3 separate regions of the Homo sapiens genome follow, and regions 2 and 3 are each linked to region 1. The links come from fine-mapping of genetic effects on gene expression. A gene starts in region 1. Each other region holds a variant in brackets. All regions are shown on one strand. Distances are between the middles of the regions. Region 1 holds the start of YJEFN3 (YjeF N-terminal domain containing 3). Region 2 holds the start of HAPLN4 (hyaluronan and proteoglycan link protein 4). Region 3 overlaps GATAD2A (GATA zinc finger domain containing 2A).

Evidence for each region.
Region 2: its variant is fine-mapped to the expression of YJEFN3 in tibial nerve (GTEx, PIP above 0.99). The same link has a PIP of 0.9 or more in cerebellar hemisphere, cerebellum, coronary artery, liver and thyroid.
Region 3: its variant is fine-mapped to the expression of YJEFN3 in whole blood (INTERVAL, PIP above 0.99).

The regions. Positions count from the first base shown.
Region 1 is chr19:19,523,851-19,532,021 of GRCh38, forward strand. YJEFN3 (YjeF N-terminal domain containing 3) reads left to right here and starts at 5,061. Exons shown (of 7, transcript NM_198537.4): 1 at 5,061-5,141; 2 at 5,514-5,663. The coding sequence starts at 5,083. NDUFA13 (NADH:ubiquinone oxidoreductase subunit A13) reads left to right here. Exons shown (of 5, transcript NM_015965.7): 2 at 2,332-2,410; 3 at 3,431-3,502; 4 at 3,851-3,920; 5 at 4,157-4,348. The coding sequence ends at 4,276. RefSeq lists enhancers at 1,003-1,978, 4,320-4,820, 5,796-6,727 and a silencer at 2,230-2,524.
Region 2 is chr19:19,255,212-19,263,382 of GRCh38, forward strand. HAPLN4 (hyaluronan and proteoglycan link protein 4) reads right to left here and starts at 7,593. Exons shown (of 5, transcript NM_023002.3): 1 at 7,519-7,593; 2 at 6,235-6,352; 3 at 5,602-5,964; 4 at 3,312-3,644; 5 at 1-2,997. The coding sequence starts at 7,521. The coding sequence ends at 2,606. The variant A/G (reference allele first, on the strand shown) is at 3,415.
Region 3 is chr19:19,407,660-19,415,830 of GRCh38, forward strand. All of the region lies in intron 1 of GATAD2A (GATA zinc finger domain containing 2A), which reads left to right. Among named protein-coding and RNA genes, the nearest start is that of GATAD2A, 6.1 kb to the left of the region's middle. RefSeq lists an enhancer at 3,136-3,245 and a silencer at 3,356-3,445. The variant T/A (reference allele first, on the strand shown) is at 4,502.

The DNA of each region.
Region 1 (8,171 bases):
ACCTGGGAGGCGGAGGTTGCAGTGGGCTGAGATCGCACCACTGCACTTTAGCCTGGGCTACAGAGCGAGACTTTGTCTCAAAAAATAAAATAAAATACGTATTTTGTAAATGTTTCACTGTGTTGCACAGGCTAGTTGCAAACTCCTAGTCAAGTGATCCTCTCACCTCAGCCTCCCAAAATGCTGGGATTACAAGCGTGAGCCGAAAAAATTTGATCCCACCACTGCACTCCAGCCTGGACAACAGAGAGAGGCCCGGTCTCCAAAACCAAAAACAAAAAGAATGGTCCACACACCCTTTTGTGCGTGCCCCTCACCATGTTCCCCACCAGACTAGCAGTTCCTAAGGCACAGACTCTGAGGCCTGGGGCCTTGGCCCCCCTGTGGTTGGCGAGGAGGAAGAGCCCTGTGCAGGCTGCATGCAAATACAAGAGGCCCTGCATTGTTTCTGTCATCTCATACATCTCTGTTCTATGCCAGTGCCACGCTGTCTTGTACACACAGCTGTGGGATAAGTTTTGGAATTTATTTCTTCTTTGGAATTTATCTTACAGATGGGCCTGCGTATGAGTGCGCAGGTGTGAGGGTGCAGGTTCTCCCCAAGGGCCCATTTTCTGCACCAGAAGGCTGAGGGCAGCCCAGGTCTGTCCCCTGGGTTCTCTGTAGCCGTGGAAAATAATGAGATATGGCCGGGCACGGTGGCTCACGCCTGTAATGCCAGCACTTGCAGGTGGATCATGAGGTCAGGAGGTCGTAACCAGCCTGGCCAATATGGTGAAACCCTGTCTCTACTAAAAATACAAAAATTAGCCTGGCGTGGTGGTGGGCGCCTGTAGTCCCAACTACTCCGGAGGCTGAGGTGGAAGAATCGCTTGAACCCAGGAGGCAGAGGTTGCAGTGAGCCAAGATCTTGCCACTGCACCCCAGCCAGGGCAACAGAGTGAGATTCCGTCTCAAAAATAAATTAATTAAAAAAAAGAAAAGAACGAGATATGACCAGCCTGGGCAATATAGCAAGACCCCATCTGTACAAAAATTAGTTAACTGGACATGGCACACACCTGGGGTCCCAGTTACTCGGGAGGCTAAAGTGGAAGGATCACTTGAACCCAGGAGTTGGAGGCTGCATTGAGCCATGATTGCGCCCCTGCACTCCAGCCTGGGTAGCAGAGTGAGACCTTGTCTCAAAACCAAAAACCAAAAAAGGAAAAAAAAATGAACAAGGCAGCTGATGAAACCTCCCATGTGCTAGACAGGAGGCTGAGAGCTGGGAGCTGGCCCTGAGCACCCTGGGCCTCTCCAGAGATGTGCCTCTGAGCCCGGACCCAGCACACCCTCATTACCTGTAGTATGGAAATGTCTTAGCCCTGACTTGGGCTTCTAACAGGTTAAATAACCAGGTACAAATTTGAGCCAGTTTCTCATTTATCTCCGGGTCTAGCAGAGGTGCCCCCGTGAGCTCCATGCTGGAGCAGAGCTGAAGGCAGAAGAGCATGACAGGTGCAGAGCAGGGCCCGGCAGGCACAGAGTAGCCCCAGCAGGCATAGAGCAGGGCCAGTGCCCTGGAGGCCTGGAGATGGCCTTGCCTTCCACCTGCTGGTCATTTCCTGGGTGTTGACTGGAGCCTGGCCTACCTGAGCTTTTCATTCATCCCACCAAGTGCAAAGCCTGTCCAGAGAAGAGACTGGGGCTGGAAGGATCTGGAGGGTGCAGGGTGAGCCTGGGAGCCAGATCCCAGACAGCCCAGGCCTCTCTGAAGATCCCAGTGGGCCCCCAGCCTGTCAGTCAGGATTAGAGCAAGGCCCCACTGGTGCTCAGTAAATATTCATGATGGCCTAGGTCCTTCCTGGGGTGCAGGGCAGGGGGCTTCACCCTGCAGAGCCAAGAGGTAGCACGGCCACCCCTAGAGTCCGGGGGGTGGCTGGGCAGCCCCCACAGGGCACTGCCTGTCCCTGGCAGCTGTGTGCAGCCCCCGCAGGGCAGCACGCGGAACTGTGGCCCAGGTGGCCGGGAGCCACCATGGACACTGTCAGAACTGCCCTTCCACTTCAGGGCCAGCCTGCCGCCCAGGGTCCAAACAGCCTTCTAGAACACGATGGACCTGGGGCCCCCCTAGCAACCACCATCTAGACCCTCAGGCCTCCTGAGGTTGCTGCCTGGCTTGTACCTTTCAGAAAACCCCTGGCATGGGGGCAGAGGTGTCACAGTCCAAGCAGCCTCACTCCTGAGAAGCCGCCAGTGTCCCCTGATTGCAGAGTGGGCAGCGCCTGGAGCTGTGGAGGAGGGTGTCTGGGGGCGGGCTGGCCCGCTGAGCAGCGCCTCTCTTCACAGGCTACAGCATGCTGGCCATAGGGATTGGAACCCTGATCTACGGGCACTGGAGCATAATGAAGTGGAACCGTGAGCGCAGGTAGGGCCCCTGGTGGGCGTTGTCTGAAAGTGCCCCCCCGGCGAGTTGTCGGGGTCCTGTAGCATTCCGCTGTTGTCTGTGCTGGCGAGGGGTGAACGGGCCCCTTGGACTTGGCTGTGCAATCCCAGGCCCCAGAAAGTGCAGATCCAGACCCAGCACTTCCACTTCTAGGCTCTGTCCTCGAGATGTCTCCATGTCTGCAATCCCAGCACTTTGGGAGGCCAAGGTGGGAGCATTGCTTGAGCCCAGGAGTTCAAGACCAGCCTGGGCAACAGAGGGAAACCCTGTCCTCGCCACCCCAAAAAATGTGTCTAGTGAGGAGGGTTGGGACCCGTGGATCCAGATTAGGACAGGATATGAGTGGGGGGCCTGCCTCGGGCCCTCTAAGCAGGATTTTGTCAGAGGTGACCAGGCTCAAACCAGACCACACCAGGCAGTGGACACACAGGGCCAGATGAACTAGGGCCAGGCGCCCCCCTCTCCCTGTGTCACAGGCTGGGCACTCCTTCCCCACCCCTCCCCCAACCCCAACGCAGGCCAGGCAGGACTGGGAGATGGGGGTCATTGCAGGGAACTTGGAAACTGCCAGAAAGCAGGGAGAAGAAAGGAAAGATTGTGGCCCCGCCTGCCCCAGCCTCACACACTGATTATTTTGAGATGAAGGGGACGTGGTTTTGTGAGGCCCAGAGCCCCGTGATGAAGTCACCCCCTCTTCGTCGCGATCATCAGGCAGAGTTATTTTTAGGATAAAAAAAGTTTTTAATTGAAAAGAAAGTAGAAAGCCAACAGTCTTGTGGGCAGTCACCCGTGCAGCTGCCTGCACCCGCCCTCCTCTCAGGCTCCTGGTGGGCTCTGCCCACAGCCCTTGCCCTTCCCGCGACCCTCGCCCTGCCCCCTGCCTGCCTCCCCGCCCCCCTCCGCCTCTTCCCCCAGCAGCACCCTGGCCCCTGAGGTCTGTGCTGCCTGTGCTCCCCCGACCTAGCCTGGTCTGACCTGAGTGTGGGTTTCGGGCTTTCACAGGCGCCTACAAATCGAGGACTTCGAGGCTCGCATCGCGCTGTTGCCACTGTTACAGGCAGAAACCGACCGGAGGTAGCACCGCAGGGGCCAAGGTTGGGAGGTCACTGGCCGGAAGGCCCCAGGCTGCAGGGCCTGACCTGCATCCCCGAAGGTGGCCAGAATGCACGTGGGGGCCATCGCCCTGTGCCGTCAGCTGCATCCTCAGGCGTGGAGACTTAGTGGAGACCCAAGGGGGCGAACCGGAAGGCTTCCTGGAGGAGGAGGCAGCACTGGGGTTGGGGCAAGAGAAAAGCTAGGAGTTGGCTGGGGGAAAAGGAGACAGGGTCGGAGGGAGGCTTGAAGGGGTGCTACTAGGGGCCCTAGGCAGGGGCCCCTCAGGGCACTGAGGCCCCACCCCCACCATCGGCCCCATCCCCACAGGACCTTGCAGATGCTTCGGGAGAACCTGGAGGAGGAGGCCATCATCATGAAGGACGTGCCCGACTGGAAGGTGGGTCCCGGCTGGGAGGGCAGAGGTGCCAGCCACGGCAGAGACAGGGCCTGGGGTTGGGGAGCTCCCACAGCTTTCTATAGAAACCCCAGGACCAAGGGGGTGGTGGGTGCCAGGTCCCACAAGGGAAGGCTGTAGCGCCTGCCACGCACAGGGGCCACTGATCCTGGGGGATGGGTCCTAGCAGGCTGTATATGGGTGGCTGTGCCTCTACCCATACCCCACTGTCCCCACAGGTGGGGGAGTCTGTGTTCCACACAACCCGCTGGGTGCCCCCCTTGATCGGGGAGCTGTACGGGCTGCGCACCACAGAGGAGGCTCTCCATGCCAGCCACGGCTTCATGTGGTACACGTAGGCCCTGTGCCCTCCGGCCACCTGGATCCCTGCCCCTCCCCACTGGGACGGAATAAATGCTCTGCAGACCTGGCCTGCCTGTTTTCCTGGGGACTGGGGGAAAGAAGGGGGAGAGGGCCCAGCTAGGCACCACCGGATCACATGTAGCATGGGGACGCAGCAGATATGCACAGGGTGACCTCAAAACACACCTAGGGGCTGCCCCTGGATCCACTGGCGGCCTCCTCTCTGCCTCCGATATACCTGGACTCTCCTGCCTCCCTTTTGAAACCATGCCTGTCAGCAGCCCACTTACCTCTCCAGGCTGGGGGCCCCTGGGTCAGCTTTGGGTCAGACCTTCTCCACGGAGGTCTGGAGAGTGGGGGGAGCCTTGACCTCCCGGATACAAGTGATCCTCCCGCCTCAGCCTCCCGTGTCACTGCGATTACAGGATTACAGGCGTGAGCCACCATACCTTGTGCAGCCCTGCCAATTGTAGGCATGGCGAGGGTATTTGTCTGCGGAGGGGCTCCTCGCTCCCTGAGAGGGAAGCTCAGAGACACGGGGATATCTGCAGGGAAAGTAAGTCGGGGGAAGCAACCAAGATTGGCCAGGTGCCTCTGCTGTGGGCTCCTGGCACGAAAGGGTGAAGTCCGTCTGAGTCCACCGACCAATGGTGACGCGCAGCGCCTTCGCGGCGCTTCCTGATTGGCGGGCATGCAGGGTGGGCGGGAGGGAGGAGAAGAGGGGGCGTCCCCTCCCTCCACGGATGCGCTTAAAAGGCGGTGGCGGTGGCGGCAGCGCCCGGCGCCCGGGCTCACCTCGGCCATGAGCAGCGCAGCCGGCCCAGACCCGTCGGAGGCGCCCGAAGAGCGGCATTTCCTCAGGTCAGCTGGGGAGAGGGAAGCTGGAGACGGGCATGGTTCCCATGGGGCCAGGAGCAGCCCGTAGGACCGGAGGCAGGGTCATAGCTGGGACAGAATGGGGTCCGGGGACTGGAGACGGGCACAGCCGGGATGGAGGTTCAACGGCAGAGGCATGACCACGGTGGGGAACCGGAGGCAGGGATATGGCCAAGACGGGCCTGGGAATCCCGGGAATCCGAGACCCTCCTGGCATCTTGCTGGAGACACTAAGCTGCGTTGCTGGGGAAACTGCCTCCGGGGCAGCCCGCCCCTCATGAATGATTCATCAGCAGCGCTGGTCGCTCCCCCACCGAACCCCAACCGTGGCCCACCCCCACTCTCCATCTCTCCCAGGGCCTTGGAGCTGCAGCCCCCACTTGCCGACATGGGAAGAGCGGAGCTTAGCTCAAATGCTACCACCTCCCTTGTCCAGAGGAGGAAACAGGCCTGGGGAAGGCAGTCATGGCTAGAGCAGATTTGGAACGCAGGGCCTGTTTGCCAGAGGTTGGTGAGTTTGGGATCTAGAACTGGCGCCGTGGCTGTGACTCTCACCTCATCCTCCTCAGCCTTTGTGACATGGGACCCCAGGCAAGGCTGTTGACCTCACTGTGAACCAGATGCGTCCAACAGCTCCTGCCCACTGCCCACCTAGCAGGGCACGTGTCCCCTCAGCCGATGTCCAGACTCAGTCTAGGGAAGAGTGTTTTAGGAGCTGTGACTTCACCTTGGGGTGAAGGGGTGAGGTGAGGGGGGCCTCAAATGCTAAGTGAGGGGAGTGAGGGGGCTCTCAGGGGTGGGTAGGAGCTAGAACGTAGTGGGGAACTGGCTGACGAGGCTGGAGACACAGAAGGGCCTCTTAGGCATGGTGAGGAGTTTGGAGTTTGAATGTTCCCAGAGCCCTCGGGAGCCATCAGCAGGTTTGGGACCCGGTGATGCAATCTGGTGTTCGAGTTTTCAAAGCCCCCCCAGGCTCATGTTGAGTTTTGGGGGCAGGAGGCTGCTGTGTGCGGCCAGGTGATCCCCCGTGGTGGTCTGGTGGGCAGAGGTGTGAGGTGGAGAGAAGCAGGTAGGACTGAGAGCAGGGTGAGTGTGGCATGGCCACCCTGGCCTGAGGTTTCACCTCCCAGAAAGCCCCCTCCTGGAAGCATTTGGCGAGTGTCAGGCCCAGTTCCCTTTGGACCCAGGCCACTTCAGGCCTCCTGGGTCTGACAGGGAAATCCTTGGGGCCTTGAAGCTTCTCTCATCTAGGGGCCGAGATTCGGGATAGCAAAAGGCACCACTGAACACCCCCAGAATCCCACAACAGCAGAAGGGACCTGCCCTGCCTGCCACCCTCCTTCACCAGGCTCCAATTCCCACGCAGCCTCCCACCCCCACCCCACAGCTGCTGCTGTGCCCCACCCCCAGGTTCCTAACCTGGACGACCCTCTGCCCACAGAGCCCCCATTATTCTAATGACCAGTTAGACAGGAAGAGAATGTTCCAAGTGGCTGCTAGAGGCCAAAGCTTTGGGACAGAAGAAGAGGAATGCATCGCCCTCCCGCCCTCCACTTCCTCCCTGCACCCTCCTGCGGGGGCAGCAGTCAGAGCTGTCACAAGATGGAGGTGGAGGAATGAGCCATGTTCCCAGCCTGCCAGATTCCTCACCCCGAATGCAAACGCACCTCCTATGTGCTTTCCTGGGAGCTGCGCTGGCCTGCCCCGGGGGGACTCTGTCTGACTTCACCATGAGCTCCTTTTCCTCACCCCGTCCTTCAACTTCATCCTATGTCAGCTGCAGACAGGCTGAGGTTTGAATTTGGCTCTGTTTACTGGGGTGTCCCAGGGCATGTGACTTTCCTGCCCTGAGTCTCTGTCTCCGTCTTTATGTGTGGACCCCCGAAGTGTCCTCTTCACCATGTTCCTCAGTCTGGGATTTGAGGCTCTGCCTGCCCTGTCCGCTTGATCACTCTGCTTCAGCCTCCCTTCTGCCCCTTGAACATACCAGGCTCCTCCCCACCCCAGGGCCTTGGCTTTTGCTATTCTTGCCCCTGCATTACCTGCCACGATGTGCCAGGCCTCCTCCTCCAGGAAGCCCTCGCTGACTCCCATCCCATAGCAGTCCTCCTTCTCCTGCACTCTGCCTACCTGGCCTTATCATGCTGCAAAATTGGCCAGAGGGCAGACATCTCCCACTCAGAGAGTTGAAGGAAAGAGTCTCAGGATTCATCCCCTCAAAACATCCACCATCTGTAGGTCTGGCTCTATGTCTTTGTTCATGTCCTGTGGCTCTGGAGACACCAAGGGGGAAAGACCCAGTTTCCCAACTTGCTTCCTGCATGATCCTGGGCAAGCCACTCGGCTTCTCTGAATCATTAGTTGTTTTTCCAACTTTTCTAGGCCTGGCTCTTTTTATTTATGTTTGTGTTTTTTATTATTATCTTAGAGACAAGGTCTTGTTCTGTCGCCCAGGCTAGAGTGCAGTGGCGTGATCATAGCTCACTGCAGCCTCCACCTCCCAGATTGAAGTGATCCTCCTGCCTCAGCCTCCTGGGTCACCGGGATTACAGGTGTCCACCACCACGCCCAGCCTAGTCTGACCAATTGTGTAGGTCACCCGAATATTCAGTTTTGCTCCGAGAGGTGGAGACGGACCCCAGTCATTCAGTGAAGTGGATGGCAGAGCTTCACCTCCAGCTAAGTAGCCACATTTTCTGGCAACAAATAACCTTTTTTTTTTTTTTTTTTTTTTTTTTTTTTGGAGACGGAGCCTCACTCTGTCACCCGGGCTGGAGTGCAGTGGCACGATCTCGGCTCACTGCAACCTCTGCCACCCGGGTTCAAGCGATTCTCCAGGTTCAAGCCTTAGCCTCCTGAGTAGCTCGTACTGCAGGCACCCACCACCATGCCTGGCTAATTTTTTGTATTTTTAGTAGAAACAGGGTTTCACCATGTTGGGCAGGCTGGTCTGGAACTCCTGACCTCAAGTGATCCACCCGCCTCATCCTCCTGAAGTGCTGGGATTACGGATGT
Region 2 (8,171 bases), 270 kb before region 1:
GTGGGGGAGGAATGAAGGACCCCACTTCCAAAGAGAATAAAAATCAAGCCCGGCCAGGCGCAGTGGCTCACACCTGTAACCCCAACACTTTGGGAGGCCGAGGTGGGTAGATCACCTGAGGTCAGGAGTTCAAGACCAGCCTGGCCAACATGGTGAAACCCTGTCTCTACTAAAAATACAAAAATTAGCCGGGTGTGGTGGCAGGCACCTGTAATCCCAGCTACTCGGGAGGCTGAGGCAGGAGAATCACTTGAACCCGGGAGGCAGAGGTTGCAGTGAGCCAAGATTGCACGACTGCACTCCAGCCTGGGCGACAGGGCAGGACTCCATCTCAAAAAAACAAAACAAAAAAAACCCCAAGCCCCCCAAGCTTGTAACATCTTATCTACCAAAGTGCATTTATACAGGAATTACCCACTGGCTGCCTCATTTTCTCATTCATCAAAAGAAACAAGGATTTATTGAGCCCCTACTGTATGCTTGGCACTCACGGGGACCACAGAACAGCCCTGGTACAGTGGGAGAACACAGGTTCAGAAGGAGTTTGTCACTTGGTCACACAGTGAGCAAGAAGAGGCAGAATTCAAACCCAAACCGACCTGGTCCCAAAACTCAGAGATAGGTTTCCTAGAGATGACGTGACAGTAAAGAGGGCCCCAGGGGGACCCCAGTACTCCTGCAGGCAAGACTTCGGGACTGGGGTCTCCCACGGCCGGGATGGCCTTGTCCATGGATCATGTCCCCCCAGCTGCCTGTCAACGCCGAGGACTTCGGCTGGGTCCTGACCTCTTAGCACAGATCGCCGCTTAGAGCCTGGTGGGTGTTGAATTTTAAAGAACATTCCATCCCTCCTGGATCTCTAAGGAGGGAAATGTGGGTGGGGGTCAGGGAAGGAGAGAGGAACTGGGTGAGAATGGAGATGGGGTCTCAGAGGACAAAAGAGGAGCTCAGTGCTTGCATATCTCAACAGACCAGGGCACGCCATAGGCTCGGTTTCCTCATTTGTAGGACGACGACAAACATGCCCGGGTGTTGCAAGATTGTCTCGTGCACAGCTGCTATCCGGCATAGAGTTAACGTGCAAACGGAGGGTGGCTTAGCAGCTCCAGAAGTCCAGCCCTGTCTGGGGAAGGGGCAGCCATCAGGCCCCTGATGGGGTGCAGTAGGGTAGCCCTAGTAGGAGGCACCCAGGACTTCTGGCCCACAATGAGAAGTTCCTGAGAACTGGAAGTCTGGTTGTCATGAGGACAACGTTGACAGTCTCTATGGCAACAGCTTGGTGAACAGGGCCCCGTTGTCCACAAGGAAAAGCCTAGGGGGACAGGTGTTCTGTTACCTCGGACTCCAGAGTTTGGTCACCATGGCAACAGTGGTGGGGTCCAAACCGCCTGGGGGTGGAGCATGGAGGGTGGTCTGGAACTGGAGTGGGCCTGGGGACAGGGACAGTTTGTTTCCATGGTGAGAGCCGGAGAACTGGATGTTGGGTCACCCTGGCGACAGCTTCGGGGAGGGTGATCTCCATGGCGGTGAGTCAGGGTAGGGACAGCCAGAAGTTGAGGTGGAGGTCTCTGGGGTGGGGGCCAATGAGATGAGAAATGTGTGGTATCCATGGTTACAGCTGGAGGAGGGAGGCACTGTCTTCATGGGTGTGCCTGATGAGGGAAGGGGTGTGTGACTCTAGGTGACAGGTAGCAGCAGGACTGGTTGCCTTGGTGACAGTGGGACCCAAGGCAACTGCTCTGCATAACTAGTGACATGGATCTTACCGGTCCCCAGGCCTGGGAAGATGGTCTGTTTGGTGACAGTTGGGAAAGGGACGTCAGAGGACAGGGTGGGTTTGCTCTCCCTTCAAAGAAATATCTGAGGGGTGGGACGTGGCCCCCAGTAAGTGAGCCAGCTGGCTGTGTGTCAGTCTGAGGTGGCAGATGGGGGTGCTCGCCCATGAAACTAGAGGGGTGTGCCCTGTTACCCAGAAACTGCAGGGGACTCTCAGGGAGAGGGGGAGAATGGGAGTCTCCAGGACTCAGGTCACCATAAGGGAAAATAAGCGCCTCGGCCCACAACCTCCATGTGACCACGGGGAGTGACCCTGAAGTTCCTGTAGTCTCTCCAGGTGAGGAGGAGGGGGAGGAGGAGGCGCCCAGTGTCCCACGTGACCGCAAGGGACTAGTGTTCAGTCTCCAGTGAGATGCAGAAGGTGTACGGCCGGTCTCTAGTCAATCCCGGGGGTCCAGCCACCAGGCGACCACGGGGGCAGTTGGTCTGTTTCCAAGTGGTCTCAGGAGGCGTGGCCAGTCTTCAGGAGCCTGCGGGTTCTGCTGGCCTCCTGAGGTCCTCAGGGGGCGTGACCCTCATGGAGAAAGTTGGGGAGTTGGGGGAATCCTCTATCCAGAAGAGGTGAGGGCTGGCCAGGCTCCAGGGAACTCCAAAGTACTGTTCTGCCAGGACTAGCCAGTCTTCAGGGACCCCAGGGGCACAGTTAGTTTGTAAGGGACCACAGGGAATGTGGCCAGTGTCCAGGGCTTCAAGGGCGTGGCCAGGCTCCAGGGGACCACAGGGCTCTAGACCAGTGGTCAAGCGCCCTGGCTGTCCGCCTACTCCCAGCCTAGACGTGCAGAGGGGTCCAGGCAGCAGGATCGCGCGCGCCCCCTGCCCAGCCGCCGCCGCCCGCCCAGCCCCAGCCCCAGCCGCCAGGTGCCGGGTCCGGTGCTCCTGGAGCGCGGTAGCAGTAGACGCCGAAGAGCCGTCGGGTGGCGTCCGGGAAGCCGAGGCTGCGCACACCAGGCCTGCGGCCTCCGCAGCGCGCTCGCGGGTTCACGATGGGGTAGCGCGCACTGCCATCGGCCAGCCAACCCGCGGTGCAGCGGTCTAGCAGCTGCAGCTTCCACGCGGCGAACAGCTGCCCCACCTTGGCCACGGCCGCGCCACGCGCAGCACACGCGCGCGCAGCTCCGGAGAAGGGTACAGGTCGCAGCGGCTTCAGGAAGAACACGCGCCCTGCGGGGGTGAGGTGGGGGGTGGGTTATTAGTGCGGCTCCTGGGACCCTGCTTCGGTGGGATTCAGGACTGCCCCCCGCATGCAGCCTAGGACTCTGGCCTCGGCCCCGGGATCCAGGAACAGTTCCTCCTTTGCAGCCTGGGACCCCAGCCTAGGCCCAACCAGCGTTGGTACCAGGCGGTGTGTGCTGCGCCTAGGCACTCTTGGGAGAGGGGTCTCCTGTTTCTGATCGCTAAGAGCTGGGTGGGGAAGAAGGCCCCGGGGTTGGGGTAGTGTTGCAGCAGAGGCCAGTCTTGGGGTGAGGCCTACGCACCCGGCAGGTTGGACGTGAAGCAGAAGGCGTCGTAGCGTTCCTCGGCGTTATGGCGATACCCGTAGTTGCGCAGGCCCCCGTTGGCATCACCGCCGCCCCCTGC[A/G]CTCCCGGTCCCCCCCAGGCCGCCGCAGGGCTCCCGGGGCCGGTTCACGGGGTATTGCACTGAGCCGTCGCGCAACCAGCCCGCGTTGCACCAGTCCAGGCCGTCGCGCCAGGCCGCGTGCAGCTGTTCTGCAGATGCCAGGATGCCGTCCTGCTCGGCGCACGCGCGCTGCGCCTCCGCGAAGGTCAGCTTGTATCGGCCTCCACGGGGGTGGTAGGGAAAGACCACGCCTGGCGGGGGGCGCACGGGATCAGCAGGTACACCCCAGCCCACCCTCATGCACCTGACGTCTGGGGTGCTATGTGACTCTTCAACCGGGACCTTTCAGTCCATTCCTCCTCACTCTGGCCTCAGACCTGACCACGATCCTCCCCAGCTCACACCCCATATAGCTGTCTCCCTTCACTTTAAGCTTGGGATTCACTTGACCCTCCCCCTTAACATACTATTTGTGTCCATCCCCTTCCACCTCTGGAGGACTTTGCTCATGCTCTTTCCACCTTATTCTACCTGTTGAACTCCTATTCATCCTTCAAAATCCAACTCCCAAACCCTCTTCCATTGAGTCCTGTGTGCCTCTGACATTCCGCCAGTACTGGGTCCCTCCCTCTGGTCCAGCCCTGAGCCCACGGAGCCTGCGTTCAGTGCTGACTCTCCTAGACTAGGACCCCCTGGAAGATTGGCCCTAGGTGAAGACCCCTTTGATTCCCCCAGCATTGTCCAAGGGAGTACCCACTGGGTTCCCTTCTACCTTCAGTTCTGATGACTTTGGAACTTGTCCCTCATTGGACTCACAGTCCGTTCAGCTCAAGTATTTTGTGTGTCTGTGTTTGAGGGACGCGGGTTGGGGGTGAGTGGGGTACCCTGGAAAGAGGCAGACAGGGTCCAGGGAGAAGGCCTGGAGCTGACAGACTGGGGATTGAATCCTGTCTCTGCCACCAACTAGCACTGTCCTGGGCAAGGCTCTAACCTCTCTGAGCCTGTTGTCCATCTGCTGGTAATAGCTGTCTCCCTTGGGGTTTTTAGGAAATTAAATTAGAGACTCCTGAGAACTCTTCAACTAAGCACCTGCCACAGAAAATGTCCAGTAAAGGAGAGCTGCTGCTATTATTGTTGTTATTTGTTATTGTTAGGGAGGTCAGCAAGCAAGGGCCCTGAAATCTCACCTAGAATCTTCTAAAGAGAACTGGAAAAGGCCAATCAAATGGGAGGGAATTCTTCAAATAGAAACCCCACCTCCCAGCTCCAGGGTGAGCCAATCAGAGCATCCCATCTTCCAGCTACAGTGATTGGCTCACAGTTGGGCACATGACTCAAGCTGAGCCAGTGAGGGACAACTCTGGGACTCTAGCTGCTGCTCCTAGGAAATCAGTTGCTAAGCAGGGAAGTGAAAGCCTAGGCACTGTGGTCTTGGTTCCAGAAAGAGAAGCCTGTCGGAAGAAAGCCTACCTGGGAAGCAGAGCAGAAGGATGGTTCCTGACACGGTGTGAGTGCCTGGATCTCACTGTGCCTGAATCCTATCCCAGGACTTCTCAGTGTCCTCATTGTGGACATTTTGGACTGGATCACTTTTATTTTATTTTATTTATGTATTTATTTATTTATTTTTGAGATGGAGTCTCGCTCTGTCGCCCAGGCTGGAGTGCAGTGGCACGATCTCCACTCACCGCAACCTCCACCTCCCGGGTTCAAGAGATTTTCCTGCCTCAGCCTCCCAAGTAGCTAGAATTACAGGAATGCACCACCATGCCTGGCTAATTTTTGTATTTTTACTAGAGATGGGGTTTTGGCATGTTGGCCAGGCTGGTCTTGAACTCCTGACCTCAGGTGATCCGCCTGCCTCAACCTCCCAAAGTGCTGGGATTACAGTCGTGAGCCACCATGCCCGGCCTGGATCACTCCTTGTGGGGGACTATCCTGTGCCTGGTAGGATGTATAGCTGCATCCCTGGCCTCTACCCACTAGGGGCTAGTAGCAACTGCCTTCTCCAGATGTGACAACGTAAAATATCTCCAGACATCGCCAATGTCCCTGGGGAGGAAAATCACCCAGAACCAGATATGGGGGCTCTACCCCAACCAACCTTCTAAATGCCTGCAGGCCAACTTGATTTGGTTTATGTCCCTTGCCATCCCCGCCCCCCTCCTTCCTCAGAAGCAAGGTTTATCCTCCCCACCGGCTGATCACCTTCCAGGTCCAGCTTGACCATGCCAGCGTCATCTTCCAGCTCATTGGTGACTTCGCACTCATAGCGCCCGTAGTCTTGCAGCGTGACGTTGCGGAGGACCAGGGAGGCATCCCCAGGCCCGTCGCCCTGCAGCTCAGCCCGCCCACGGTAGCTGCCGAATGCCCGGTGCTGGGGGCCTAGTGCCACGAAGACGTCGGTGAAGGCCAGCGGGTCCACCACCTTTGTCCACTTGAGCCGGACGCCGTCGTGACCGTGGGCGGCTGCCTCATAGTGGTAGCGGCAGGGCAAGACGATGGTGCCACCACGGTGGCTTACCACCTGCCCAGGCGCTGTCTGTACCACTACCGAGCCCGACTCACCCTCTGAGGACAACCAAGCAGGGTTCAGAGGAGGGGCCTAGGGGCAGAAGGGGGCCTCTGGGGAAGGTGTCTCTGGGGAGGGGAACGTGGGAAGACTCGGGTGGGGGTCGGGGAATCAGAAGGGTCCAGGGGCTCAGGGAGAGGGCGAGGGGCTCAGATGGGGAGTGGCTGGGGGAACCGCGGACGTCAGGAACGCCCTACCCGCTACCCCTCTCCGCACTTGGCCACTTCTGCTTTTCGCGGAGAAGACCACTTTTAGCGGCCCTGACTCACCCAGCACGTGCACGACCTTCTTCCGGCCACGCTGCGCCCCCGCAGGGGCTGTGAGCAGCAGGACGCCCCAGGCCGCGGCCCAGAGCGCGCCGGGACCGAGGGCCGCCCGAGCGCACACCTGGGGGGCGGGCACGGGGCGCTCAGTCCAGCCTCCCAGCCTTGGCTTTTCGGAGGCCTGGCTCCCTCCCGGGCCTGCCTTCCCCACAGCGAGGACCTCTCTCACGCCCATGTCCCCACCCTTTCCGGGGTCCTGGAGAACTCCCCCTCCTCCTCTTGGGACCTCACATCCTAGCTTCTGCAAGAACCCACGCCCCTAGACTCCCCCCCGCCCTCAGTCCTGCCCCAGATCCCGCCTCATTCCCCCCCACCCCAAAACCCGAGGCTCGCTGCCCCGCCCCCTTCTGGCCCTGGCCCGGGCCGGGGATAGGGGGGTGGGGAAGAGCTGGAGGAGCGGCGGCAGCAAGGTTATCCGTGCGCCAGGAGACTGCAGCAAACCGGGCCGGGGCGGGCAGGGAGGGGGGAGAGCTGGAGAGAAAGAGGGAGAGACGCGGGGAGAGAACAGGGACAGAGAGAAAGGCAGGGAGAGGCAGAGAAGAGAGTGCGCGACACAGAAAAAGGGGAAGGGAAGAGAGAGAGGCAGAGATGGAGAGGGAGAGACAGATGGAAAAGAAGAGACAGATGTAGAGGGAGAGACAGAGATGGAGAGGGAGAGACAGAGAGGCAGAGGGAGAGACAGAGGGGCAGAGGAAGATACAGAGATGGAGAGGGAAAGACAGAGATGGAAAGGGAGAGACAGAGAGGAAGAGACAGAGAAGCAGAGGGAGAGAGAGAGAGGCAGAGGAAGAGACAGAGATGGAGAGGGAGAGACACAGATGGAGAGGGAGAGACAGAGAGGCAGAGGGAGACAGAGAGGCAGAGGGAGAGACAGAGAGGCAGAGGGAGCGACAGAGAGGGAGAGGGAGAGACAGAAAGGGAGAGGGAGAGACAGGAGAGTGCCAGAGGCAGAGAGACTCAGAGAAGAGGAGGGAGAGATAGGGACAGGGAAAGACAGAAACGGAGAGGAGAGGAAAAAGGCAGAGAGGATGACAGAGATGGAGAGAGGCAGGGAGAAATGGAGAGGGAGAGAACCTAGAGTGCCAAAAAGAGAGATCAAAGAGGGTGAGAGACAGAGAAAAGGAAGAGACAGAAGAAACTCAGAGGGATATAGATTCAGAGGCAGAGAGATATAGAATCCAAGATTGGGGAGACGGGGCACACACCACCCGCGCCCGCAGCCCCACTTACCATCTTGCCCGCGCGGCCCCCGCCGAGCGGCCCCTACGCACCCGGACTGCGCTCCCCGCACACCCGGTTAAGACTGGGCAGGTCCCTGCAGGCGGCGCAATCCCGGCGTCTGCCTGCAAGGGGAGGAGGAAGGCGGGCGAGGCGGGGTGTATTAAAGGGGCCGCGGGGGCCCACGCTCCCCTGGAGCAGTGGCTGGAGCGCGGGCGGAGAAAGAAGCGCTCTGGACTTGGAGTGCAGAGCTAGTTCCCTCACCCTGCTAGCTGAACTTAGGCCAGGGAAGAACCTCTCTGAGCCTCAGTTTAACCATCTTTGAAATGGAGGAGGGGGCTGAGTCTTCTATCTTGGTTACTGTGCTTTGGCAGGGGACCTGGGGGATCTGGTGAAAGAGATCATTTGGCCTGCAGGCCACCTGTCCATTGGGTAGTCATAGTGGAGTCCTGGTCTCCAGCACCCCAAAGGCGCTCCCTGTGCAGGGTGGGGGCCTCACGATAGTCACACTCTGCTGTGGACTGGAGCCACAGGCCCCAATTCAAGTCTGCCCCTCACTGGCTGTGAGACCTTGGAGGAGACAGTTGGCCTCTCTGAGCCTGCTGCTGACTCTTTGGTGAAGATCCAGTAGCTAGACATACAGTAGATCTCCGGTAGGGGTTGGG
Region 3 (8,171 bases), 120 kb before region 1:
AATCTGGTGACATGGGGACACCATGCTAGCCCTGCTTTGTTCTAGTGGAGCAGCGTTACCAGCTGGATTTTAAGGAACTGAACTACAGAGTTAGTTGCTACTTTGCATTCGCTTCTTCAGCTTTGGACTCAGAAAAGTTGGCCCTTTTCTAGAGGAAACAGTTTATAGGATGTGGGAAATTTGCAAGGGATTTTCTGTATCCTCTGTCTTCACTTATTCCCTCCCCTCCTTCATCTTTCAGTTCTTATTTGTCTCATAAAATTCCGAAGCTGGTTTTTATGAAGATTGCTTCTCATCTTGGAAGGGCTATAGAGAATGGAAAGATTTGGATGCAGTGTGTTTTGTTTGTTTGTTTGTTTTTTTGAGACGGAGTCTCGCTCTGTCATCCAGTCTGGAGTGGCACGATCTTGGTTCACTGCAACTTCCGCCTCTCAGGTTCAAGCAATTCTCCTGCCTCAGCCTCCCGAGTAGTTGGGACTACCATGCCCGGCTAAGTTTTGTATTTTTAGTAGAGACGGGGTTTCACCATGCTGGCCAGGCTGGTCTCGAACTCCTGACCTCGTGATCTGCCCACCTCAGCCTCCCAAAGTGCTGGGATTACAGGCGTGAGCCACCACGCCTGGCGGATGCATTGTTATTTCCACTCAGATGACATCATTTTTTAAAATGTCAAGTCATCTCTATTAATGCAGTATCATTTGGCAAATCCTATAATCTTATATTTTGATAGTGAGGGAAAAATATAATGCTACTTTCGGTAGGAAAAAATCCTGGAAGGATTTGTACCAGAATGTCAATAAAGGTCTCTACATTAGGATTAGCAATAGTTTTTCTTTTTTAGAAAACTTTTTAGTGTCTCTGTATTTTGCGTGTGTGTGTATGTTTTTAATGAGGAAACATGTTTTAAATACTCTAATTTTCAACTCTTCAGTAGCTCCTCTGACTTGTTTTGCATCATTTATTTTCTGAATTTCTGGCATTGCAGGTAGTGATTTCTAGATTGATATATTCAACAAATATCAGAGTGCATACTGTGCCTTCGACACTGCGAGGAATCCCTCCTCAGTAGAGTTTATAGTGAGATTAGTGGGCCAGGAGTCGTAATTAATCTTATAAACATGGGGAAACTTACAGGGATCAAGGAGAGAAGGACACTGTGACCTGGTGAGCCCGAAAGGACCTTTCTCCTACTGGGGTCAGAGAACAAGAAGGGGGACCCTCTTGAAGGGGATTAAGGCAAGGGCTGGTGCAGTGAGGCTCACAGCCGGGACCTCTTTGGGTCTTAGCAGATGACTAAAGGATGCCTCTGAAGAATGTGGCTGGTAAAGTTGTAAAGCCATTCTTGAAATGTTGGCTTTTTTTTTTTTTTTTTTTGGTGTTTGTTCTCTTGGAAGAAAATTAAGAATGACCAGCAGAGTTTTGGATATATGAATTCCCAACAGAGACAAAAATGTAATGGCCCTTACCACTGAATTTGTTTAAGGACCATCATTAGCATGTACTGACACCTCAAAGCCTGGGCAGCTCAGATGCTTTTCTGGAGAACTACCTGCTTGGACTCGGGGTGTTTCTGTGCCATCAAATGGAACAGGCAGGGCTATTTTCTCTAGACCTTTCCCCCCCATAATTGAGTTAATTTATGCTGGTTGTAGAAAACTAGGAAGATTATGAAATAGGTGAGTGGGTGAAGTCTTCTCGAGCAGCTGTCCTGGGGTAATAGAGCATCCCTGGGATTTCCTCCTAACCCTTGTCTGGTTGGGAAGTGTGGCAGAACCAGAAGAACAAGTTGGCAATGTCATAGTTTGAGGCATACAGAACTATGCTGCCTGCTAAGTGTGGTCGTTTGTTAGAATGGATGCTTTTGAGTTATCTGAGCTGCTTCGGGAGGTAGCTTTCCACAGTCTGGCCTCAGACTGTGGGTCTTCCAGGTTAACAGGACTTAAGTGCTAACTGTGCAAAGGTATGTCTTTGAATGGAATTAGGAAGGCAGTGTATTAAAAATAAGAAGGTTGAGATAAAAAAAGACGGATCTTGAAGTGGTTGGTGGTTGCAGCGAGGTGGAAATAGTGAGACCCGTACTGTCAGAAACAAAGGTACCACTGGGGACAGATCCCGCTCGAGCATGGGTTCCCCAGCATCCCCGCAAACAGGATCTGGGACTTTTTTGTCAAGAGAGTGTCAGACCGTTGGCTTCTTGCCCCTCCCCCACCTTGTGCTTTCCAGACTATATTTGTGACCTCTTTTTGTCTGATGGAAATGTAGGTTAGTCTTTTAGAAGACAAAGGAATTTACCCTAATAGAATACCTTTAGGTAGCCTCAGGAAGTGATTGGGAATCCACGAAACCCTCTAGGTGTGGGAGAGAGGGGCCCTCAGTGAGAATGTCACACGTTTGCACCAGTTTGCACAGTTGCCAGGGCCCCTTGCAGCTCCTCTGTACGCTGTACCCCCTTTGTCTCTCCTCAGCCTCCAGAGGCACCTTCACAGGTGAGTTTGTCAGGGAACTTGCCTTTCTGTCTGATTCCTGATTTTAGGGTTCCTTATATGGAAGGGCTGAAGACCTGCAATTTCCGAGGATGCTGGAGGCTAGCTTCTGAGATAGGATTTGCTGGCAGGAGATGAGCAGTACTCTAAAGGAGGGCTCCCAGCAAGTCAAAGTGGGAGTTCTTGGGGCAGGGGGTGGGGGATGGGGGTGGTGGGTGGAGTGGTCAAGGCTTCAGGGCTTTCCTGCTGCTTGGCCTCAAAGATAGTAGCTATGCCTGTGGGGAGGGGTGTGGCCATGTGGTACAGGATTGGGGAGAAATTCCACTTGTTTGAAGGATTTGTTGAAGAATCCCTCAGCTATTCCTCCTGCAGTTCCGTCTCAGGACCTGGCGCTGCGTGGCCTGCCTTGCCGGTTAGATATTCTGGTTTGAACCTTGAAACGTAGCCTAAATAAGGTGGTGCCTTCGAGCACACACTTTAAAAATACTGCTGCATTATGGTGGCACAGCAGCTCCTCCTGTGCCAAGGAGGCCACTTTGAGTCTAGGGGGCACCTGCTTTTTGCCAAGTGTGGCCGTGTGCCTATTGCTGAGCAGCCTGTCTCTAGTGGCATCCAGGACAGCCCTGGCTTTGCCTCAAGACAGCCTGGTGTGAGCTCTGCCCAGCCACTTCCTAGCGAAAGACCTTGTTGAACATCACCCCTGTTTCCCATTTCTGTCAAGGGGGTACTTACTATCTCCCGTGGAAGGCTGTGTTGGGAGTGAGATAACAAGTGCAAATGATCGACCCCAGTGCCTGTGTGTTCCACATGTTGCAGTTCAGTGAGTACTGTTATGACTGTAACAGATGAGCCAGAGTTCACAAGCATTAACAACTGCCCCACCTCTTCTGTGGGGGATGACACCACCCTCATGGCAAACTGTCACTGTCTGCATGCCCCCTTTGGAGCCACACTGGGGCGCATGCCTCAGCTTTGTGCCCCAGCCTATTCCCCTCTCTCCATGTTCCTGTGAAGAAGGCAAAGTTCCCCACAGGAGGTGATACTTGCCATAGTCACCTTGCTCATTATTCGGCGGCTGGGACCCAACCCAGCCTTTCTGATTTCAGACGTTGTCTATTTTTTCCACTGCCTTGGGGCCTTCTTGACGATACTGAATGCCTGGGTTGGTTGTGCCCCAAGCCAGGAGGCAGCCTCTTTCCTGGCCCAGGGCTTGTGGAAGCCAGCATCCGGACTTCCATCTGTGAGATGGGAAGCTGTTTGCCGGGCAGATCTGTCATGGGAGCCTTCCTTAGAGAACTGAGAGGGGTCCCTGTCACTGAGTGGACTCTGGGTGGAGGCTGGAAGTAGGTGGTTTGATGGTACTTGCAGTGGTGTCTGGGAGCGCCAGGGTGAATCTCATCCTCCTGGACTTGCCTTTCAGACTGACAGCTCTCCAGCCAGCTTGGAGTTGGACAGATCTGGCTTTGTCACTGACGATATGCAGTTTACCACTCTTCAGCGTTGGGTGGGTCACCTGATCACCTGGCCTCAGCTTTCTCTTATGTTGGCGGAGACAGCATCTTTGACCTAACAGGATGCTGTGAGGACAAGTGGAAAGTGTCTACAGGCAGTCAGGGGTATTCCAGCCTTTGCCTCTCCATTTACCTCAGAGCCAAAAAGCTTTCTCCCCCCAGATGTCAACTACACAGTGATTCTTGAACACCTCATATCTCAGTTATCACATATAATGTAACACTCAGATTGAGGAGCTTGGTTTTCTTTATAACAGAATCCTACTGCAAGCTAACAATTTGGAGGCCTAAGAGTCAGGTCAAGGCCGGGCGCGGCAGCTCACGTCTGTAATCCTAGCACTTTGGGAGCCTAAGGCAGGCTGATTGTTTGAGCCCAGTAGTTCGAGACCCGCCTGGGCAATGTAGCAATCCCCCATCTCTCTCTCTCTCTCTCTCTTTTTTTTTTGGTGGGCTGTCTCAGGCCGCTTTTTTTTCTCTCTCTTTTTTTTTAATTTTTAATTTTTTTTT[T/A]AATTTTTTTGTTGAGACGGAGTCTTGCTCTGTCAGCCAGGCTGGAGTGCAGTGACGCGATCTCAGCTCACTGCAAGCTCCGCCTCCGGGGTTCATGCCATTCTCCTGCCTCAGCCTCCCAAGTAGCTGGGACTACAGGTGCCCGCCACCACACCCGGCTAATTTTTTGTATATTTAGTAGAGACGGGGTTTCACCATGTTGGCCAGGATGGTCTTGATTTCTTGACCTTGTGATCCACCTGCCTCGGCCTCCCAAAGTGCTGGCATTACAGGCGTGAGCCACCGTGCCCGGCCGATTCCCCATCTCTTAAAAAAAAAAAAATTAGCCAGGTGTGGTGGCATGCATCTGTAGGCCCTGCTACTTGCGAGGCTGAGATGGGAGGATCGGTTGAGCCTGGGAGGTTGAAGCTGCAGTGAGAGGAGATCATGCCATTGCACTCCAGCCTGGGCGACAGAGTGAGACTCTGTCTGCGGGGGGGATAAAAAAGGTCTGATCAGATTATCTGGAAGGGATGTGAAAAACCCTGTGGCCCTAACTCTACAAATAATACCAACTTAACATTTTCTCCAGTCACAGCCATTCTGTGCAATTAACCTTTGAGTCAGTGGCTGTGAATCTATACTCAACACATTCTTACCTTAGAGACGGCTGCTTGCCCTGACCTCGGAGGTGGGCAGGTTTTAGGCCAGTAAAGTAGGCCTCCAATTTACGATGGATTGACTTAAAATTTTTCAACTTTATGTTGGGTTTATCAGAGGTAACCCCATTGTAAGTCGAGGAGCTCCCTTTGATTTGTAACAGTTTCTCCTGAACACAGATCCCTTTCGTACCATGGTAAAGTTGAGAAATTTTAAGTCGAATAATTGTAAAATGGGACCAGTGGCTGTGTTAAATGCATTTGATATTTTCTACTCCCAGTGGGGCTGCATTCTAATAAACCCATCATAAGTTGAGGAGCATCTGTCTTCTTGTTGCTGGGGTTTCAAGTTGGTGGAATTTGGTGGTAGTGACAGCAGATTTTTAGTTCTCTTGTGTGTTTAGCACAGGCTCACTCTGCCAGCAAGTTTTGAAAACTGCTGCTACCACCTTCGTTCACATCCGCAGAGGAACATTTTTCCTTGTTGCTCAAGTGTGGCTGGAGAAAGTAGGAGAGTGGTGAACTGAATTCTTGGTTTGAAGGCATCGATTGAATTGGTTCCGTCACTCTCGAGACCTGTGCTGTTCTCAGGACTTGCGTATCATTGACGGAACACCTGAACTTCATTTTCTGTCTTCTCATGTAGTGTCCCTGGGTTTGCCGAGGGTTCATGCCCACCCCGTTCAGTGGTGGTTCTTTCAGAGGATTCTGTAGTCAGCTCCTTTCCTAGGGTTCTCTTATAGCCACTCTAACCCAGGGAGAGTTTGCTGGTGTGTTTGGTGTTTTTGTTTTTGTTTTTTTGAGATGGAGTCTCACTCTGTCGCTCAGGCTGGAGTGCAGTGGCGCAATCTCGGCTCACTGCTTGAACCTCCGCCTCCTGGGTTCAAGCGATTCTCCTGCCTCAGCCTCCCGAGTAGTTAGGATTACAGACACCCATAACTTTGCCTGGCTAATTTTTGTATTTTTAGTAGAGATGGGGTTTCGTCATGTTGGTCAGGCTGGTCTCGAACTCCTGACCTCAGATGATCCACCCACCTTGGCCTCCCAAAGTACTGGGATTACAGGTGTAAACCACCGTGCCTGGCTGTGTTTGATGTTTTTATTAATACGTTCGTTTGATGAACTGACCTCGGTAGTTTGTATGTGGGCCATCTGTCTCCTGCCTCCCTTCCCCAAACTTTTGGTCAAGTTTTTAGTGTTGAGTCTTTTTGTTGTTGTCTCTTTTCTGACTGTACAAGCAACATTTCCTGATGCCGAAGTCTGGGGAGGGGGTGGGAGCCTCAGATGTTGGTGGTAGGAGTTGCCTGGTCTGCTTTTGAAGTTTTCTTGGGCAAGTATATTAACATATACTGAGTATAGGTTCAAATGTAATTGCAGTCTTATTGTTAGTTTGTATCTGTCAGGTTATAGGATTAGAAATATAACTATTTTTGGGAGTTGGGTAGCAGACAAACTGAGGATTCTACCTGGGACTTTCTTCTGTGTACTGTGCTCTGCTGAACCCAACACTGGGCACAAACAGGAAACTGAGGCTCAAGCGGAGGAGGAGTGGCCTGCCCAAGGTTGACTTGCAGAAGGAATGAGGATATATCCCTGTTTTCTCCTGGAATTAGACTTTCAGATCTCTGTTGTTCTTACTGATGTCTTTGTGGCTTGGTGAATTTTGTTTTAGCTTCCTTCTTACTTTATTTATGTAGGTCCATTGGTCAGTTTCCTTCCTCAGGGCCTTGTCTTTTTTTTTTTTTTTTTTTTTTTTTGAAACAGAGTCTTGCTCCATTGTCCAGTCTGGAGGGCAGTGGTGCAATCTCGGCTCACTGCAACCTCTGCATCACGGTTCAAGCGATTCTTGTGCCTCATCCTCCCAAGTAGCTGGGATTACAGGCGCACGCCACCACGCCCAGCTCTTTTTTTTTTTTTGTAGAGATGGGGTTTTACCATGTTGGCCAAGCTGGTCTTGAACTCCTGGCCTCAAGTGATTTGCCCACCTTGGCCTCCCAAAGTGCTAGGATTACAGGTGTGAGCCACCACACCCTGCCCCCTTTTTTTTTTTTTTTTTTTTTTTGAGTCCTGAGGTCATTTTGGGTGTCTGTAGGGTGAGGATGGGGCAGGACATGGGGAGGGAGAACTTAGGGCTGCCTCTGGTTTCTCAGGGCAGCCTTAAAAAAAAACTATAGTGGCCAAGTGTAGTGGCTCAGGTAACCTTAGCTCTTTGGGAGGCTGAGGTGGGAGGATTGCTTGAGGCTAGGAGTTTGAGATTGGCCTGGACAACATAGTGAGACCTGCCCCCGCCCCCCTCCCCCCAAAAAAACCCCAAAAAACTGTAGTAGTGTTGAGTAGGTGATGTCTTTACTTTTTTTTTTTTTATGTTTTTTAGACGGAGTTTTGCTCTTGTTGCCCAGGCTAGAGTGCAATGGCATGATCTCAGCTCACTGCAACCTCCGCCTCCTGGGTTCAAACAATTCACCTGCCTCAGCTTCCCGAGTAGCTGGGATTACAGGCATGTGTCACCATACCCAGCTAATTTTGTATTTTTAGTAGAGACAGGGTTTCTTCTCCATGTTGGTCAGGCTGGTCTTGAACTCGCGACTTCAGGTGATCTGCCCGCTTTGGCCTCCCAAAGCCCTGGGATTACAGACGTGAGCCACCACGCCCAGCCTTTTTTTTTTTTGGAGATGGAGTCTCACTCTGTTGCCCAGGCTGGAATGCAGTGGCACAATCTTGGCTCACTGTAACCTCCGCTTCCCAGATTCAAGCGATTCTCCTGCCCCAGCCTCCCAAGTAGCTGCGATTACAGGCGTGCGCCACCATGCCGGGCTAATATTTTTTTTTTTTTTTTTTTTGAGACAGTCTCACTTTGTCACCAGGCTGGAGGGCAGTGGCATGTTCTTGGCTCACTGCAACTTCTGCTTCCTCGGTTCAAGCAATTCTCCTGCCTCAGCCTCCCAAGTAGCTGGGACTACAGGCACATGCCACCACGCCTAGCTAATTTTTGTATTTTTGGTAGAGACAGGGTATCACCATGTTGGCCAGGA